Linked DNA regions of Homo sapiens. The protein of the gene in region 2 binds, or shares a complex with, the protein of the main gene of each other region. Each region holds a gene or a part of one and is shown on either strand. Other genes may lie near its edges.

Region 1 (10,519 bases), on a different chromosome or scaffold from region 2:
GCATCTCGTCTGCAAAGGGGAGAAGGGACTAGCTTAAGGGTGAGGCTGTCCCCACAGAGGCCCAGAGGCAGGGGACTGAACCATGTGGCTCCAGGCCTCTACCTGCTGATGAGTGTGCAATTCTTTCTTTTTTTTTTTTTTAGACAGAGTTTCACTCTTGTTGCCCAGGCTGGAGTGCAGTGGTGGGATCTCGGCTCACTATAACCTCCGCCTCCCGGGTTCAAGTGATTCTCCTGCCTCAGCCTCCAGAATATCTGTGACTATAGGCACGTGCCACCATGCCTGGCTAATTTTTGTAATTTTTAGTAGAGATGGGGTTTCACCATGTTGGCCAGGCTGGTCTCGAACTCCTGACCTCAGGTGATCCACCCGCCTCGGCCTCCCAAATGCTGGGATTACAGGCATGAGCCACCGCACCCGGGTGAGTCTGCAATTCTGTGTGGAGTTGTGGACTATTTCTTCAGATCAGTTCTCCAGTTTCTGCCAGTTCCACACCAGCCCCGAAGTCTTGTGTTTTTTCTCTTTACCTACCCCGATTACAGCCACTGCTTCTATTGGAGAAAGTCAAATCCTAGGGCAATGGTTTCCCTAGGTTCTGTTCTGCAGAATTTGAGGCCATGTTAGTGGTTCTGTAGCTGTTTAAGTAATGTAATTTATTTATTTATTGAGACAGGGTCTCACTCTGTCGCCCAGGCTGCAGTGCAGTAGTGCAATCACTGCTCACTGCAGCCTCTACCTCCTGGGCTCAGGTGATCCTCCCACCTCAGCCTCCAGAAGAGCTGGGACTACAGGCTTGCACCACCACGTCCAGCTAATTTTTTTTGTATTTTTTGTAGAAACAGGGTTTCACCATGTTGCCCAAGCTAGTCTTGAACTCTTGGGCTCAAGCAATCCTCCCGCCTCAGCCTCCCAAAGTGCTGCGATTACAGATGTGAGCCACTGTGCTCAGCCCAAGACTTGTTATTTAAAGTGAACTTTTTAGGCCAGGCATGGTAATCCCAGCACTTTGGGAGGCTGAGGAGGATGGATCCCTTGAGCCCACAAGTTTGAGACCAGCCTGGGCAACATACTGAAACCCCATCTCTACAAAAAATACAAAAATTAGCCAGGCATGGTGGCATGCACCTGTATTCCCAGCTACTTGGGAGGCCGAGGTGGGAGGATCGCTTGAACCGGGGAGGTGGAGGTTGCAGTGAGCCGAGATTGCACCACTGCTCTCCAGCCTGGGCGACAGAGTGAGACCCTGTCTCAAAAAAACAAAAACAAAAAGTGAAACTTTTAAATAGTAATACCAAAGGAACATGGACATCCAGCTGTGTTACAGACCGCATGTTATCACTTTGGAGACTGCAGCACATTCAATGCTTGGCCAGCTCACACTGATTTTTGTGCAGCCCTGAGAGGAAAGGTTCTCCTGTCATTTTTGCTTAACTGAGGAATATCCTGTGATTATAATGAAGCAGTTAAGAAAAAATTAAGCTGTCACCATTAGCAATTATGTATCAGGGTGAATCAAGTTTGGGGAAAACATAATACAGAACTAAACTGGAATCTCAAACAAACATAAAATTCAAATGCTCATCTATTCCCTGGACTCACTATTTTTGTATGCTTTTGGTCTCACTATTCTGATTGGCTTTATCATAAGAAAATGATAAAAATTTTCTCTTGTCAGAATACATTTGTATTAATAAAATACTGTACTGCTTTTAAGTTTTTCTTTTTTTCTTTTCTTTTTGTGAGACAGAATCTTGCTCTGTCTCCCAGGCTGGAATGCAGTGGCTGGCGTGATCCTGACTCGCTGCAGCCTCGACCTCTTGGGCTCAAGAGATCCTCCCACCTCAGCCTCCTGAGTAGTTGGGACTACAAGTGTGCACTACTATGCCCAGCTAATTTTTTTGTTTTTATTTTTAGTAGAGATGAGGTCTCACTATGTTGCCCAGGCTGGTCTGGAACTCCTGAGCTCAAGCAATCTGCTTGCTTCAGCCTCCCAAAGTGTTGTGATCACAGGCATGAGCCACGGTGCCTGGCCATTAAGTTTTTCATAATCAGGTTTTCTGTTAGGTTTTCTTTGGAAGAAAAGAATTCTGCTGCTGAAGAAATGTTTGAAAAATCAGTGATCTGGAGCTGTATTGTCAGATGCTAACCACATGTGTTGTTCAGTGCTATAGCCACCAGCCACATGTGGCTCTTTACATTTAAATTAATTAAATTAAAAAATTATGGTCAGGTGCAGTGGCTCACGCCTGTAATCCCAGCACTTTGGGAGGCTGAGGGGGTTGGATCACTTGAGGTCAGGAGTTTGTGACCAGCCTGGCCAACATGGTGAAACTCTGTCTCTACCAAAAATATGAAAAATTAGCTGGGTGTTGTGGCAGGCGCCTGTAATCCCGGCTACTCGGGAGGCTGAGTCAGGAGAATTGCTTGAACCTGGGAGGCAGAGGTTGCATGTCACTGCACTCCAGCCTGGGTGACACGGCGAGACTCTATATAAAAAAACAAACAACAACAACAACAAAAACTTCCTTACACTAACCCCATTTCAAGCGCACACGTGGCTAGTGGCTACCATATTGAACAGTGCAGATGAAGACCATTTCCTGCATCATAGGACGTTCTTTTGGATGGCACTGGTCTAGGAAAGGGCTTGAAGTGGGATCCAGGAGCTGTGGATTCCTATCCCAGCCTTGCCTAATAATCCCTGTGACTTTGGGCAAGTCACATCTTGCCTCTGGGCCTCAGTTTTCTTGTCTGAGAGAAAGGAGAAGAACCCCAGTCCTCCTCACCTCCCAGGGCTGGGAAGAGTGTGAAGGGATAGGCTAAGGGCAGGGCCCCGGCTGCGGCAGAAGGGCAGGTGGAAGGCAAGGTTGGGAATACCAGGGTAGGTACTGGAGCCAAGACCTAGTTCCATCCTGGGATAAAGAAAGGGTCCCAGCTCTGGAGACCCCAAGGGGTGAGCCCCAGACTCTGGCCAGTGGCCTGGTACCTTGATGGGGGAGAGGACCTGTCAACCCACTTCCTAGCCTCTCCCCTCTCCTCCTGGGTTTTCTCACCTGCAGAGCTGGGAGGTGTGTGGTGCCACGGCTGGGCCTGGTGCCTCTCAGGTCTCTGCTCTGCTTGATGCTCCAGGCCTGCCTTATAAAGCCCTCAAGGTCCCTCCCAACTGTCCCCCCACCCCGCCCCTACCCTGCCATATGAGTCCAGGCGAGAGGAATGGGGTGGGGCACAGGTACAGCCCATCACCCTGCCCCGCCCTTTCATTTAGTGTCAGTCAGTCATCCAGGATGTGGGGGAAGGATAGGGGAGTTGACCTTCATGGTGAGGGGCTGGAGCGGGGTGGCGGCAGCTCTCCAGCTGTACCTGAGGGGCAGGAACCAAGCTCCCTGGGTCAGGAGCAATGCTTCCCACCATATCCTGGGGGTCAGAGGCCTGGCACTTATCTCTCGAACTACATAGGGACCTTTGTGGGTGGTGGTAGGTGAGGGAGTGAACCCGATGGGCTTAGATTCAGGGAAAGTGGATTTCGCCATCCACTGATGTTTGGCAAGCGTGTGAATGTGGGGTGATGTATTGATTCCCCGTCCCCTCCACTGGACTCTGCAAACATAACGTGTTACCAGGAGCAATGGGTTGTGGGCTGATGGCCCTGTTCTCTCCTTCTAGTGGCTCACATCCTGGTCACCTCTGAAGTCCTTTCACCCTCCCCCTACCATGGAACACCCTTGGTGCCTTCTTCTCCTTAGGCCCTCTGTGCTGGGCTGGGTTTGGCTTGTAGCTGCCCCGTGTCTTCTAGGTCAGCTGCCCATGCACCACCACTTGCAAACCCCCTATGCAGAACCAATTCCTGGAGGGTCCTGCCTTTGAAGCCTCCTTCATTTTGCTTTCAAGGGGAGCTAGTAATCTGCATAACAACTTTTTTTTTTTTTTGAGACAAAGTCTAGTTCTGTCACCAGGCTGGAGTGCAGGAGTGCAGTGGTGTGATCTCGGCTCACTGGAACCTCCGCCTCCTGGGTTCAAGCGATTCTTCTGCCTCAACCTCCCTAGTAGCTGGGATTACAGGCGCACGCCCCCACGCCTGGCTAATTTTTTGTATTTTTAGTAGAGATGGGGTTTCATCGTGTTGGGCGGGCTGGTCTCGAACTCCTGACCTCATGATCGGCCCAGCTTAGTCTGCCAAAGTTCTGGGATTACAGACGTGAGCCACCATGCCCAGCCAACAACTTTTCAGTATCAAAATATACCTTCAAATGGTTAGCAAACAGACTAAAGCATTTGCCAAAGATGGACCAGAAAACAAAATGGTACCTTGTTGACTTATTTGATAAACTGCTGCCTCCACATGGTTTGACCAGATGTAATGAGCCGTAGGCTGTTTTTTACTTTTCCACTGTTGAGAGCAGAGATTTTGCTCCTGTTCATGCGTCATTGGGCCCCCACCTTTTCTGGGAGAGTTTGATCCCCTTGGGTATTGGGTAACTGCAGTGGTACCCATGCTTACAGCCAGCCTTGCTGAGAATTAATGGGTGATGAAGGAAGCAGGCTGTGCGGTGTCCATGGCAACTGACGGCTGAATAACCGTTGTGAATAACCACTCTCATCTAGAGCAGGACACGGTGACTCAGCAGATGGAATAAATGAAAACGACAAAAAGCAGTGCAGGCATTGGTGATAATTAATTGAATCACAGAATCTCAGAGATGAAAGGACTTTGAGGGGGCTTGGGAGAACAGGTGGGGTGAGTGTAGCTCTGTTCATACACTAGGGGAATGAATGAAGACATTCGTGTTGCTATGGTAACACTAATGGGAAATGATAAGTTTTCAGTAGAACCCTGGTTGTACCAGAGCCCAAGACTCAGTTTGTGCCCATGGAGGGGGTTATGCCCCCTTGAATGTTCTTCCCCAGGCTGGTTACATGAGGGATGACAATTTCAACAAATAGAAGCATGTCTCCTATTCCATAGGCAATGGTTAGAATGTCACTATTTGGCCAGGCTTGGTGGCTCACTCCTGTAATCCCAGCACTTTGGGAGGCTGAGGCAGGTGGATCACGAAGTCAAGAGATCGAGACCATCCTGGCCAACATGGTGAAACCTTGACTCTACTAAAAATACAAAAATTAGCTGGGCATGGTGGCGGGCGCCTGTAATCCCAGCTACTCGGGAGACTGAGGCAGGAGAATCGCTTGAACCTGGGAGGCACAGAGAGGTTGCAGTGAGCTGAGATCATGCCATTGCACTCCAGCCTGGTGACAGAGCGAGACTCTGTCTCAAAAAAAAAAAAAAAAAAAAAAAAAGAATGTCACTATTTGCAGACCCTGCCAGGTCTGCAGGGGAAGGGTTGCATTCAGAGATGAGCATCCTTGACCCTGAGGAGCTCCCCAGTCACGGACTGCACGTTCTCCTCATGAGGGGACCTCGTCTGATGGAAAAGGAAGGGTTTCCTGGTCCTGTCTTTTTCCAGCTGTTGAGCTTTGAGCATATTTCTCTCCTTCTCTGAGCTGTTTTCTCCTCTAGGAAATGAGGAAAGTAACTTGGGGAGGAGGGTCTCGTGAAGGTGATGTACATAAAGCGCCCTGCACGGTGCTCAAAACATTGCAGATATTTGGCCGGGTGCGGTGGCTCATGCCTGTGATCCCAGCACTTTGGGAGGCCAAGGCAAGCAGATCACCTGAGGTCAGGAGTTCGAGACCAGCCTGAACAACATGGTGAAACCCCGTTTCTACTAAAAATACAAAAATTAGCTGGGCGTGGTGGCACATGCCTGTAATCCCAGCTACTTGGGAGGCTGAGGCACGAGAATTGCTTGAACCCAGGAAGTGGAGGTTGGAGTGAGCCAAGATTGTGCCATTGCACTCCAGCCTGGGTGACACAGTGAGACTGTCTCAAACAAACAGACAAACAAAAGAGAATATCGCAGGTATTTAATCCATTTTGCGTCTTCTCCCCCATCCTCTCTGGGTCTCAATTAACCACATTTGGAAATAGGAATCATTCATTTGTACCTCATAGGGCTGCAGTGAAGGGAAGAGGTGACAAGGTCTGTGCACACGCTTTATACACTTGGGGGAGTTCTCCTTCCCCAAGGCTTAAAGGAGGGTAATTCCCTAAGCATATCACTCTGTGAATCCAAGGGTTTCCCTCCTGCCAGCTGTGACTCAGAGGGACCTCAGCCCAACTGCCACTGAAAGAGGCAGCAGGGATAGAGTCTATGGAAGCTGGACCTCCTGGTGTACAGGGGGTTTTGGAACTGGTGAGGCCAGGGTTTGAATCATGGCTCTAACACCGACTAGCTGGGTGAGCAGAAAATTCAATTTCTGGGCCTACCAAATTGAAGACCAGATCCCAGACCTTGGGACCCATCTCCGTCCCCCTCGAGGGTGCAGGTGTGTGGGCCCTGCCCCTGTCATCACAACGATAACAATGCCGTGTACCAGGAACTGATAAGCTCTTAGCATGAATGAATGCAATCACTCTTCACCATGATCCTAGGACCTAAGTGCTAGTGTGAACCCCTTCTTCAGAAGAAACTGATGGGTACGGGGGCTTACGCCTGTAATCCCAGCACCTGGGGAGGCCGAGGCCGGCAGATTACTTGAGCCCAACAGTTGAAGACCAGCCTGGGCAACATGGCAAAACCCCATCTCTACAAAAAATACAAAAATTAGCTGGGTGTGGTGGTGCGTGGCTGTGGTCCCAGCTATTTGGGAGGCTGAGGTGGGAGGATTGCTTGAGCCGGGGAGGTGAGGTTGCAGTGAGCCATGATTGTGCCACTGTACTTGGGAGACAGAGTGAGACGCTGTCTCAAAAAAAAAAAAAAAAAAAAAAAAGAAGTAGAAACTAAGGCTTAGACAGGTGAAGTAATCCCCATCCTGAGTCCACACACCAAAAAGGAGAGGTGGGTCTGAAACTCAGGTCTCTATCCTCCCAGTAGGAATGTGGCAGGCAGAACAATCATGTCCCCAAAGATGTTCCTGCCCCAATCCTTGGAACCTGTGAATATGTGATTACATAACAAAAGAGACGTTGCAGGTGTGATTAAGGTTACTGGCTTTAAAATAGAGAGCTTATGCCAAGTGCAGTGGTGCATGCCTGTAGTCCCAGCTACTCTGGAGGCTGAGGCAGGAGGATCACTTAAGCCCAGGAGTTTGAGACCAGCCTGGGCAACATAGTGAGACCCCTGTCTCTGAAAAAAAAAATTAGGGAGTTTATGCTGGATTATCTGACTGGGCCCAGTGTAATCACATAGCCCTTAACTTTCTTCAGCTAGAGGCAGAAGAGATGTGGCTGAAGGTCAGGTCGGAGAGCTGGAGTTATGAGGACTCCACAAGCAATTGCTGGTCTGAAGATGGCAGGAGGGCAACAGGACGAGGAAAGCAGTGGCCTTGAGGAGCTGAGAGGTTCTCCACCGACAGCCAGGAAAGAGGAATGTCAGCCCCGCAACTACAAAGAATGAAATCTGGCCAACAACCTGGATGAGCTTGGAAGTGGATTCATCCCTAGAGCCTCCAGAAAGAAATGCAGCCCTGCCGACCTGATTGTGGCCTTGGGAGATCCTAATCAGGGGACCCCGTGAGCCACTCTGTACCAGGACTTCTGACCTACAGAACCGCGAGAGAATAAATTGCTGTTGTTTTAAGCTTCTAAATTGTGGTGACTTATTATGGTAGCAATCAAAAATGGATACAAGGGATCACAGCCTTGTGAAGGTTTCTGTTTAGTAAAAACTGGCCCAGCATGAATTTCCATGTAAATTTTCAAATACAAAGAAGGGAGCTGTTCTTTGAGTTATTCTGACCATCCGAATATTCCAAATTCATTCCAATTACTGAGCACCTGCTGTGAGCTAGGGTACAGATGAGGCTACTTGGGGATAAGAGGTGAATATGACAGCGCTGGGTGCAGCGGCTCACGCCTGTAATCCCAGCACTTTGGGAGGCTGAGGTGGGTGGATCACTTAAGTTTGGGAGTTCAAGACCAGCCTGACCAACATGATGAAACTCTGTCTCTACTAAAAAATACAAAATTAGCCGGGCATGGTGGTGCACGTCTGTAATCCTGGCTACTTGGGAGGCTGAGGTGGAAGAATTGCTTGAACATGGGAGGCAGAGGTTGCAATGAGCTGAGATTGTGCGATTGCACGCCAGCCTGGGCAACAAGAGTGAAGCTTTGTCTCAAAAAAAAAAACAGGTGACTATGACAGGACAGACCCTTTCATTGCTTTGGTGGAGTTTAGATTCTAGGGGCATAAAAGAGTAACACACGGCCGGGTGTGGTGGCTCACGCCTGTAATCCTAGCACTTTGGGAGGCCAAGGTGGGCAGATTGCCTGAGCTCAGGAGTTCAAGACCAGCCTGGGCAACATGGTGAAACCCTGTCTCTACTAAAATACAAAAAAAAAAAAAAAGCCGGGCGTGGTGGTGTGTGCCTGTAGTCCCAGCTACTTGGGAGGCTGAGGCAGGAGAATTGCTTGAACCTGGGAGGCAGAGGGTGCAGTGAGCTGGGATCGTGCCACTGCACTCCAGCCTGGCGACAGAGTGAGACTCTGTCTCAAAAAAAAAAAAAAAAAAAAAAAAAAAAAAAAAAAAAAAAGAGTAACAGAAAAACAAGGGTCCCCTGTGAAGGAGACTGTTCCCTGAGGAGGGAGAGGCTTCTCAGTGGACCCAGGCACACTCCTGCCTGCCAGGGCTGGCTTTGGGAAACAGATCACTATTGATGAGCTGCAAACCGTTGTCAGGGAGGCAGTGCCTTGGCTTCCTAATTGGTTATTGATGGCAGAAAAGGAAGAGCTTGATGACGACTCAATCATTCTGGCCCAGGCAACCAGGGCTTTGGAGGATGTGGTAGTTCTGGGGACAAACAGTGACACCTGGAAGGTGTTTGCATCAATGAGGGCATCCATGATCCCCCCTGGGGTAGGGGGCTAGGTAGGGGGAGGTGGGTTCTTGGGTTCTGGCCTCAGCTGCTGTCTGAGAGTGGTGACATGGCAGGGCCAAGAGGGCAGCCTGCAAGCTGCTTGCAGACTGGGCTGGAGAGGCTGCCCACCACCCCTGGGCCCAGGCTGGGCTGTCAAGGACAGAGAGTAGTGGCTACCCTTACTCTGGCTTCCGCTTCTCTCCTGAGCCTCCTCTCTCCTTTTCTCCTCTGATGCCCACCTGTGCCTTCGAAGCAGTGGTTCTCAGCCCAGGCTTTGTATTTGGATCACCTGGCCTCAAGTGATCCTCCCTCCTGGCCTCCCAAAGCCCTGGGATTTATAGGCATGGGCCACCACGCCTGGCCTAACAGTGGTTTTAACTGGGAAAAATAATCCTAAAGGCCCCTCTGTGAGAGGATGAGAGGAGTCTTTATTCGGGTGTGTTCCAGGCTGAATGGCTCATCCCCGGCCCAACAGGTAGGAGGTGAGGGAGCTGAGTTGGGGAACCCCCGGGTCTTGGACTCCATGTGCTGCTGCCTCTTCTCGGCCCACAGCTTCCCATCCCACCCTCTCCAGAAGCCTCGCTCCTGCTGAATCTGTCTTCACTGTGACCTCCAGCTCCTCCACTGTCTGGCTCCTCCCAGCCCGCCTACCCCTCCCAGGGTTTGTCATCTCAGTTCTGTGTGATGCACATAGATTGCTGCCCCTGTCCTGCTTCTGAACCTGCCAGGCTGGTCCCAGGTCCCTGACAGGCCACCCCGACCCCTTCCTCAGCTCCTGCCACTCCCTGCAAAAACCGACAGGAAGTTTCCGAAAGTGACCAGTTGATTCAATTGCAAATTAATATTCTGCAGCTTGGTTGTTACTGGCAACTGTGGTGAATCATTTCTCTTTCATTCCCAAGGTCATTTGACGTCAGCCCCCTTTTCCCCACCGTGAACACAGCTGCCTAAGTCCCGCTTCCGTCCTTTCCTCCTTTCCTCCATCGCTGGAGGTTCTGTCACCCCATTCAGTGTCAGCCCCTCCACCAGGGCCCATCATCCCAGACCCTCCTGCCTGCTTAGAGACCGTGTGCTTTCACTCTTTCATTCACTCATTCATCCATGCATCTGTTTACTCAACACAAATTTTCCAAGTGCCTGCTTTGTGTCAGGCACTGTTCTGACCCTGGGGACACAATGGTGATCGAGGGGGGTCTTTGTTCTTTCTCTTCCCTTTTCTTTGTTGTCTATTGAGCCCAGGAGTGGGGTGGGTTGGAGTGACACATGGTGGGCTCAAGGGGCCATGGGGGAGGTTTGGATGGCTGGTTATGCCTATGACCTCGCTATTGAGAACGTTATTTCAGAGAAGGTAGAAGGATCAGTGCGTTTCTTCAAGCTTTACTGAAGTTTTGCTGCATATATAAACCCACCTGATTCCAAATGATCCCTGGCAGACGGCAGAGGTCATTTCTGTCCACGAGCCAGAGAGATGCTGCCATGTGGCAAGGGCAACACCCCTGCTCATAATGTGCCCACCCAGCCAGCTTTGGAAATGATGCAATTCTTTTTTTTTTTTTTTTTTTTTTTTTAAATAAGCCATTTAGCCAGGCGCAGTGGCTCATGTCTG
Region 2 (10,207 bases):
CTCTCCAAGGTCAGTGTCATGTTTCTATGGGCCAGGCTCAGTCCCATATCAGAGGCATGCCTCCTTTCCCATGTACTGCTCCATTCTTATTCCTCTTGTGTCAGGTAAGCTACCTTTTCCTGTGCGTTGGGGTTAGTCCATGCTTTGGGTGTTGGTTTCCTGTGTCAGTTGTGGTTTGTGTTTCGTATGTCTGGAAGGGTCAGTGCATGTCATTTGCCCTGCCTCAACCCCCACGGCCCCTCTACTCCTCAGCCAGGGCCCAGTGTGCTGATGGTGGTGTAGCTAAGCCTGGACAGCGAAGCAATGGAGGGAGTGGGAGGGTCCTCATCGGGAAGAGCCCTGGGGCGAGCTCGTGGAGGCCGGGGGCAGCAGCGAGCGCAAGTTTCCAGGCAGGCCTGGCGAAAGCGACGGTGCATGAAGCAGTAGACCAGGGGGTTGACACAGGCCGAGGCGTAGCTCAGCAAGTGAATGAAGGAGATAGGAGCACCCGAGAGTGCTCGGTGTGCACCCGGGCCATCAAAGGCGCGCCACGTGTTGGCACTATAAACTGGCAACCAACACAGAAAAAAAAGCACAACGATCACCAGCAACATTCGCACCACGCGCTTCTTAGCCAGCAGCTTGGCCTGGGTGGGCCGGGAGCCGGATCCCGGCCCAGGAGCCGTCAGCGCCGTCAGCTCCAGGGCAGGCCGGGAACGTGGAAGTTGCACGTAGCAGCCATCGCTGTCTTCGCCAACCGCGCCAGTCTCAGGCCGGCAACGCCCGTTCTGGTGAACAGCCCCTGAGCACAAAGGGTGGGCGGTCAGAGAAAAAGGCGAGTCCCCCCAGTCTCCAGCCCAGTCCCCACCTGACCTCCGCTCCCAGCTCAACTCCATTTCCAGCTTCCTTCTCACCCTCACCTTCATTTCAGTCCCACCCACTCCAGCAGGCCCCGTCGCCCTCCAAAGCTCCGCCTCGCCCAGATTTTGCTCACGTGGTCCAGCCCCACCTGGCAGCCCGCCTTGGTTTCGGACCCTGCTTTGGCTGTCGCTGTCACTGTCGCCGTCAAAGCGAAGCCCTAAGTAGAGCTCGCGAGAGATAAGCCCGTAGGCCACGGCCATAACCACACCCGGGATGAAGAACAAGAGCAGAAGCAGCAGTACGGACCTGAAGGCAACACAGACAGATCACTCGGGTTTCTGTCCAGCTGTAATCACAGATGGAGAAAAAGCCAAGGACTAGTGTTTCTAGGGCTGTGGCCAGGTACCTGAAGTAGGAGTAGGATTTGGGGGTGCCGCTGGGAAGGGAGAGAGAACTGGGGAGGGGCCCCAAACTGGAACTCCAGGGTGGTGGATGCAGAATAGGAGTTGGCGTGGTAATTCTCCGGGAAGCTGGAGGAAGATTCTGGGCAATGGTCGTAAGCATCTAATAGGGGTGAGAAAGGAATTCCTAGGATAGTTTATGGGCAAGCTCACCAGGTCTGGCGGACCCGCGCACTGGGCCAGCGATGCACGCACTGCAGCACACGAGGCCCCACTGGTTGCACGACAGTGTACACGGGGTAGGGCACCATGAGTAGTCCGGACAGCAGCCACGTGGCTACAATCACGCGAGCCGCGTGGGAGCGCGTCTGCCACACTCGTGCCTGCAGTGGTCGGCAGATGGCGCTGTACCGCTCCAGTGCGATGGCCACGAGGCTTAGCGTGGACACACTCACAGACACCCCTAAACAAGGGAAGAGAAAGGAAGGAGTCACCTAGGAAACTTGCACTACACAAGCATCAGTGGGACTTCCTCACACCCCTCCCTGCCAACCGGGGAAGACCCCTACATCCACAAGAGCTTTAGGCGGGGAGAGTGGCAAGTGGGGGTGGGGTGGTTGTCTCACCCACCCATGAGGTAGGAAACCGCCTTGCAGATGACGGTGCCAAAGATGAATGTGCCCATGAGATTGGGCAGGAGGGTGAAGGGCATGCAAGCCACAGCCAGCAGGAGGTCGCTGACTGCCAGTGAGAGGAGGAAGGCATTGGTGACAGTCCTCAGGCGGCGGCTCAGTCCCAGGACCACGATGATGAGCATATTTCCTCCAACGCTCATCAGGAAGATCACTGCGTAAAGAGTGATTCTAATGGCCAGCTCCAATTCTGGGTAAGAAAAGGGAGAGGTGGCAGTAGGGGGTCAGCCTTCATTCAGTCAAATCCCCCTCCTTCCGTCTTATCCCCAACCCTCACTACCCAGCCAGATGCCTACATTCCCCACCGATGAACTGCTCAGTAAATGGTGAACTTGAATCCTTTAGCCTTCTAACCCCTTGAGGTTTGGTTAAATTGGCCCAACTCTGCCCTTCCTTAAGAAAGCCTGTCTCTTCTCAAGGTTCGTTCCAAATCTTTCCTTCTTTCTGCAGACAAACTTCTTAAGAGGATATTTGTGTCTTCTCATTTACTCTTCATTCCATTACAATACAATATTCTGTGCCCTATCAGTGCATACTTCTTCCCAAGTACACTAATCTTTAACTGCTAAATTCAAAGGTCCTTTCTTAGCCTACTCTATTTGACCCCGCTAGAGTATTCTACACTGTTGACAACCCACTACCTTTTGAATCACATCAGATCATGTCTTTATTCTCTAAAAACAAAAGCAAAAAAAAAAAAAAAAAAAATACTTCACTTACTCTCTACTGTCTGCAACCCCTCAGAATATCATCAAGATCCTCCCAGAAGGGACTTCTTTCTCTCCCACCCCCTCCCTGTACAGCAGGCATTTAAGCAAGCCACTGGATGACTCAATTTCTTGAATGCATCATTTGCACTTGTGACTCTCTCCCTGCTCAAGCTGGTTTCTCAGACCGGAATACTCTTTTACCAACCCTCCTCACAACTTCTACCCCTCATCACAAGCTTATTTTCTGTATCTGGTGAATTCCTATTCATCCCTTGTTGGTCAAGACTCAAATTGACTGCTACTTCTTCTGTAAGGCCCTTCTGTAAGGCCCTTCTACTCTCCTCTTTCTCTGACCCATGCCTGTTTCTTACACAACTATTACAGCCTATTTTACTTCTGCCTTGTATTTTAATTCTCTCCAAACATTCATTCTCACTCTATAAACATTTACAGAGGACTCCCTTTGTGCTAGGCACTGGGGACAAAGAGATGAACATGACAAGATCCCTGCCATTTGAGAGCTCACAGTGGGGAAGTAAACTCAGATACATAAACAGATGTGATAAGGAGTGAGGCTGAAGGATGTATAAGGTGCTGTTGGAGCTCATAGGAGGGACACCTGTGTGAGGCAGAGGGGCTGGGAGGCTGACCCCATTCTTTTGTGTCATTGTCTATTAAAAGATGGATTAATCTTTGGACCACCACATCACAGCCAAGCAGATTTAGATAAAATCGAATTGGATTGAACAGGACTGAATTACTCACACCTATGGCCTCAGCATGAGAGGGATTAGAGCTGGAAGGTAGAGAGGGCAGGGGACAGAGCCTCCTAGATTGCAGAGAAGGAAAGCCTCAAAGCTGCAGCCCCCTCTTCCAGAGCCCCATACTTTGACTGATTCTCATTTTAGCTCCCAAATTGAAAACTACAGCCATGCACTGAATAACGATGTTTTGGTAAATGACCAATTTCATATACGATGGTGGTCTCATAAGATTGTAATGAACAGCTGAGTGCAGTGGCTTATCTTTGTAATCCCAGCACTTTGAGAGGCCAAGGCGGGAGGATCACCTGAGGCCAGGAGCTTGAGATCAGCCTGAGCAACATAGCAAAGTCCCGTCTCTACAAAACATAAAAAATTAGCTGGGTGTGGTGATACGTGCCTATAGTCATAGCTACTCAGGAGTTTGAGGCAGAAAGATTGCTTGAACCCAGGAGTTCAAGGCTGCAATGAGCTATGATAGTGCCACTGCACTCCAGCCTGCACAACAGAGTGAGACTCTGTCTCAAACAAAACCCAAAATAACAACAACAAAAGATTATAATGGAGCTGAAAAGTTTCTATCACCTAGTAATGTTATTGTAACATTGCAGCATAATGCATTACGTATGTGTTTGTGGGGATACTGGTATAAACAAACCTACTGTGCTGTCAGTCATATAAAAGCCTAGCACATACAATGATGTACATAATACTTGATAGTGATAATAAATGACTGTGTGACTGGTTGATGTATTTACTACATTATACTTTCAATCATTATTTTAGAGTATACTCTTACTTATTTTTTTAAAAAAGTTAACTATAAAACAGACTCAGGCAGGTCCTTTAAGATGTATTCCAGAATAAAGCACCGTTATTATAGGAGATGACAGCTCCATGTGTGGTGTTGCCCTGATGACCTTCCAGTGGGACAAGATGTAGAGGTGGAAGATGGCAATATTTATCCTGACCCTGTGTAGCCCAATGTGTGTGTTTGTGTCTTGGTTTTAACAGAAAGGTTTTTTTTTTTTCTAAAGTTAAAAACAGAAAAATGCTTATAGGATAAGAGTATAAAAAAAGAAAATATTTTTGTATAGCCATACAATGTGTTTTTTGTTTTACACTGTGTTATTACAAAAGAGTCAAAAAGTTTATAAAGTAAAAAGTTACAGTATGCTAAGTTTAATTTATTATTAAATACATTTAGTGTAGCCTAAGTATCCAGTGTTTATAAAGTCTACAGTAGTGTACAGTAATGTCCTAGGCCTTTACTTTCACTCACCACTCATCACTGACTTAGCCAGAGCAACATCTACTCCTGCAAGTTCCATTAACGGTACGTGCCCTATACAGGTGTATGATGGTTTATCTTTTATGCTGTATTTTCACTGTACCTTTTCTATGTTTAGATACACAAATACATAACATTGTGTTACTCTTCCCTACAATATTCAGCACAGTAATATACTGTACAGGTTTGCAGCCTGGGAGCAGTAGGCTATACCGTATAGCCTAGGTATGTAGTAGGCTATACCTTCTAGGTTTGTGTGACAAACACTCTATGATGTTTACACAATGAAATCACCTAATGATGCATTTCTCAGAAGGTATCCCCATCATTAGTTAATGCATGACTGTATTTTCTCATAACAAAAACCAATTTATTTAGAAATTGTAGGCATCAAATAAATGCTATTTATAAAAACTTCCAAACCGAACTCAGCAGTAACATTCTTTGCTCAAGACCACACACCTGATAAGGGGCTGAATCAGAATAGAAGCCAAGTCCCTGATCCCTAATGTGCTTTGCCTCCTACTGTTTGTTCCTGCAGTACTCTGTTATTCATCATACTACCTCCATGTTTTTTGTTTGTTTGTTTGTTTTTGTTTTTGTTTTTGAGATGGAGTTTTGCTCTTGTTGCCCAGGCTGGAGTGCAATGGCATGATCTTGGCTCACCGCAACCTTTGCCTCCTGGGTTCAAGCGATTCTCCTGCCTCAGCCTCCTGAGTAGCTAGAATTACAGGCATGCACCACCACGCCCGGCTAATTTTGTATTTTTAGTAGAGATGGGTTTCTCCATATTGGTAAGGCTGGTCTCGAACTCCCGACCTCAGGTGATCACCTGCTTTGGCCTCCCAAAGTGCTGGGATTACAGGTTTGAGCCACTACGCCTGGCCCATACTGCCTCCTTCTTAATCAAATCTCAATCTAAATGCCTCTTTCTCCCTCTCTCTATACTCAACCATGGCATTTTTCACTGTATTAGTATGTATGTAATTCTCTGTCTTCCCCACTAGACTAGGAGCTTCTTGAGGACAGTGGCAAGGTCCATCTCGCTCTCCAGTATATCCCTAGCACTCATCATCCCTAGCACAGGGGAGGCAGTCAACACATGCTTGTTAATGAATCTTGGATGATTCTGTCTTTCAAGACAGAAGTGCACCTGCTTTCCCCCTCCTCATCCATCCGTCATCTCTGCAGAGGTGCTCCAGCATGCCCTTTCTTCTTCTTCTTTGCCTCTGTCTTTTTGGAGACACATGTTGGAAGGTCCTTGTGGGGGTCAGTGAGAGGTTATGATTTCAGATGCATAACTTTTGTTTTTTATATGCAAACCATCTATATTTCCTTTAGAAGCTGGGCCTCTCTCTGTAAGGAAGGATTACAGAAGGCTTATAGGTGACAAAATTTGAGGGGAGTAAGTGTGTATGGTGGAGAATAAAGGACTTTTAGGAGGGAGACCTCTGTCAGAGAGGTCCTTGGACTCAGAAAAGAGCTGGTGGTTTATCTTGGACTCACTGTTTCTTCTCCAAATCCATTGTCCTCCCACCCCCAGCCTCCACCTCTTTAATCTTTCTAGTTCCATTATCTTGCTTACATCTGCCCTGGATGTCTTTCTTCAACTAATTATTGATGCAATTCGCCACACCTCAAATTGGTACAGTACTGTGAAGCATGAAAAGCAATTTCTCATTCATTCATCCAGCTGATGTCCCATGTGTGTGCCCTTGAACTTGGCTAATTGTGATAGACCATAAAGATGGAGCTAAATATTACCCTTATAAAGTTTGCAATATGCTTGGGGACTCCTGAAATTTATAAGACAAAGTCCCAGTAAAAATGACCAGCAACTGTGCAGTGTTCTGCTGTTTTACTGGACATTCCTAGCTATTATCTTATTTCCAGCCACCACTGTCTCCACACGTCTTTGCTGTTGAACAGTTCAGAAATGTGAAAAATTCTAATTAAAAGCAATTTTAGAGCCAGGAGTTTGGAGAGGCAGAGCGAGGGATAAATAGATGAAGTACAGGGGATTTTTAGGGCAGTGAAACTATTCTGTGTGATACTGTAATGATGGATACATGCCATTATACATTTGTCAAAACCTATAGAACCATACAACACAAAAAGTGAACCCTAATGTAAACTCTAGAATTTAGAGAATAATGTATTGATATTGGCTCATAAATTGTGACACATGTACCACACTAATGTAAGCTGTTAATAATAGGGTAAATTCTGTGTATATGTGTGGTTGTGTGTGTATGGGCACTCTGTAATTTTTGTAAACTTAAAACTGCTCTAAAAATAATCCATTAGTTTAAAAAGTCATGCACAAAATAAATCAGACTTAGACTTGTATGCGTGTGTGTGTGTGTGTGTGTATTGATGTGTGTTTGCATGGTGGAATATGAGTGATGACAGTGGCTTCAGTGACTAGGAAACAGGCATGGGTAGAAGGATGGGAGATAGCACCTGCTGGGGTACATCCACAAGTGCCTTGATAAGTCTACCCGTGAGCATCATCTCATCATCTTCCTGGGGATGAGGAAAACTGGCATCAGACCAGGCGACTCAGAAGATTGGGACAGTTCAGTTCTTCTCCTGGTGTTTAGAAGATCTGTATTTGTTCTGTCTAGATAATGGCAGAGAAGTATGAGTGCAAAAATCCAGACAACGTGACATAAAATGAAAACCAAGACTTTCTAAGGAAAAACTCCACAGAACACTGAAGCTGCTGATGCCTTAAATTCTGCATTCTACTGGCAGGTTTGATCTGTTCACCCATGCACACAGACATCAAAGTAATACCCTTGTCTCTATGATAAGCAGGGATCACATCCAACTGACTGTGGGTAGTGGCTGGGTGAATGGGGGAATCCACATAGTGGGTACTGAGGGAGCAGAAGTAATATGCAAGGGTGTGTAGGTAATATCAGAGTGAGTGTTGGGCATACTTTAATCTTTGAAATAGTATATGGGTAGGTGAAAGTCACGCTTATTTCTGTGGGACATATCTGGAGAATGGTAACATCTACATGCTTATAGGTAATATCCGATTGAATATGGCTTACATTTAAGTTTAGATAATATCTGAGTCACTGTAGTAACATTTGAAAGAGCAAGGGTTAATATCCAACTCTCTGTAGATAACATTTTGTAGGTAACATCTTCAGGAAGCATAGATTACATTCAGAGGTCTACTTGTGAGTAGTGGAATATCCAAATAATGATAGAAATTGCTGACTGAGCAGAAGTAATATCCAAGTATGTATGGGTAGTATTTGAGTACAGATGTTAGATGTTAACATGTTAACTAAATTAAGATGTTAATCTGGGCCAGACATGGTGGCTTATATCTGTAATCCCAGCACTTTGGAAGGCTGAGGTGGGCAGATCTCTTAAGCCAAGGATTTAGAGACCAGCCTGGGCAACATGGAAAAACCCTATCTCTACAAAAAATACAAAAAATTAGCCACTTGTGGTGGCACATGCCTGTAGTCCCAGCTATTTAGGGGGTTGAGGTGGGAGGATCACTTGAGCCTGCGGAGGTCAAGACTGCAATGAGCCATGATCATGCTACTGCACCCCAGCCTGGGCAACAGAGGGAGACTGCCTCAAAAAAAAAAAAAAAAAAAAGATGTTAATCTGAGTAAATGAAATAACTGAGCACCTGAGTGAATGTAAGTAATATTTAAGCTTTTGTGGGTATTATCTGAGTATGTGAGAGTAATATTTGTAATTTTATGGGTAGTATCTGGGAAAAGCTTACTTAAGTGAGCATAGGTAATATCTGGTTGTGTGTGGATAATAATAAAATGAAAGTGAGTAGTGTTTGATGGATGGGTAACACCAAAATGACTTCGGACAATATTAAAGTGAGTGTGGTAACATTTGTCTTTCTGTGGGTACTATCTGAGTGAACATGGGTAATACTCAAGTCTGCATGGATTATATAAGGAGAATAAAGTGGTAACATCCAAATTCCTATTGGTAACATTGGAGTGAACCTGGGTAACCTATGCATCTGCAGGGATAATATCTGAATGAGTGTGGCTGACAGGGTCTCTGTGTGTAACATCTGACTGGCTGGGTAACATCCAAATGTGTGAGGAGCATTTAGATAAGTGAGGCAAATTTTTGCACCTGTGCTCTGAATTGCGTCACATCCCGCTTTCACAGGGAATCTTCTCTATTGACTATCCCCTTTCTTATCTGCACCTTCAATCTTCCTCTCTCGGCCCAATCACCAACAAACATTTTAAAAAGCTCTTGTTTTAAAATGCGTGCACACACACGCGCACACACGTAACAAACCTATGCACATACCCACTCCCCCCTTCCTCAATCTCATGCTATTTTTGGCAATATCCTGCTTTTCTTTCTCTCTCTCTCTCTCTCTCTCTCTCTCTCTCTCTCTCTTTCTTTGCCTACCAGACTTCTTGAAAGTTTTGGCTACATACCTTGGTTCACTTCTCATAACTCCTTCTCTCACCAGTCCAATCTTTAACCTACCATAGTCAAGCCTCAATACCTACAACTCCTAAATATTTTCTTGTTATTGAATGTGAAGGATGCTGTTCTGACTGTCCTGTTTTTTATTTATGTAACTTATGTCAATAGCATTTGATATCACTTACCCCAACCTGCTTGAAACTCTCTTTTTCTTGCTTTCTGGAAGGGCGTAGCTCCTGCCTTTCTGATGGTTTCATCTGAATCTCCTTCATAAATTCTCCTTTCTCTGCCTGGCTTTTAAATAATGGTCTTATGCAGAGTCTTGACCTAGGACCTATTTTCTTCTCATTCTATACAAAATTTTATGATTTTAACTATTCTCGGGGCTTCTACATCCTGTAGGCAAAGACCTTCTTCAAGTCTGTATTTCCACCTCAGACCTCTCCTGTAAGTTCCAGACCCCTGGATTCAACAGCTTACTAGGTAACCTCACCTGGATGCCCCACTAACATTTAAACTCAATGGGTTCCAAACTGAATTTATAATTCCCTCTTCCAAACCTGTTTCTGCTGTTTTGTTATCTTTCTCATTGTATACAATTGCTATAGCACCAATATCCATTCAGTTGTCCAAGTTAGAAATCTGAATGTCATCCCTTGACCTCTTCCATCCTCTCTGCTTCTAATCTGTTGATTCCATTTCCAGAAGAGGCTCTCAAATCTATCCACCTCTCTCCATCTCCCTTGCCATTACCTTAGTCTCAGCTAGCATCATCTTTCACCCAGAACAGTGTAATATAGTAACCTTGTAAAGTATCCCCCTGCCTTCCATCTTATGTCTTCCAATCCGTTCTCCACATTATAGAACTAATCCTGGTAGTACTACCGAATCTTTTAGTAGTTCCTATTGCCCTCGGGAGAAAGTCCATGTTCCATGGTCAGGCCTAGCAGGCTCTCTGCAAACCCTCTAGGCTGGTCTCCAGCCTGTTCATTATTCCCTTCTTAAGATATATGTTCTAGTCACTCAAAACTATGTCACAGTGGATAAAAGTGCCATGAATTCAAACTTT

Evidence for each region.
Region 1: the proteins of CCKBR (region 2) and GAST are in contact, whole or in part, in a cryo-EM structure (PDB 7XOW), measured with the Homo sapiens proteins. Residues at the interface, in NP_795344.1 of Homo sapiens: Cys107, Pro114, Asn115, Gly118, Thr119, Phe120, Met134, Gly135, Val138, Tyr189, Gln204, Cys205, His207, Leu222, Val349, Tyr350, Ala352, Asn353, Arg356, Pro361, Ala363, His364, Leu367, Ser368, Ile372, His376, Tyr380; in NP_000796.1 of Homo sapiens: Glu85, Ala86, Tyr87, Gly88, Trp89, Met90, Asp91, Phe92.

What each region holds. Positions count from the first base shown.
Region 1 is NC_000017.11:41,704,922-41,715,440, reverse strand, and holds the start of GAST (gastrin preproprotein), read right to left. Parts: upstream 3,111-10,519; 5' UTR 3,054-3,110; intron 10-3,053; 5' UTR 5-9; coding exon 1-4. UniProt on the Homo sapiens protein: Gastrin stimulates the stomach mucosa to produce and secrete hydrochloric acid and the pancreas to secrete its digestive enzymes. It also stimulates smooth muscle contraction and increases blood circulation and water secretion in the stomach and intestine.
Region 2 is NC_000011.10:6,261,585-6,271,791, reverse strand, and holds part of CCKBR (gastrin/cholecystokinin type B receptor), read right to left. Parts: intron 2,124-10,207; coding exon 1,872-2,123; intron 1,705-1,871; coding exon 1,455-1,704; intron 1,147-1,454; coding exon 989-1,146; coding exon of another isoform or gene 782-988; coding exon 249-781; 3' UTR 1-248. UniProt on the Homo sapiens protein: Receptor for gastrin and cholecystokinin. The CCK-B receptors occur throughout the central nervous system where they modulate anxiety, analgesia, arousal, and neuroleptic activity.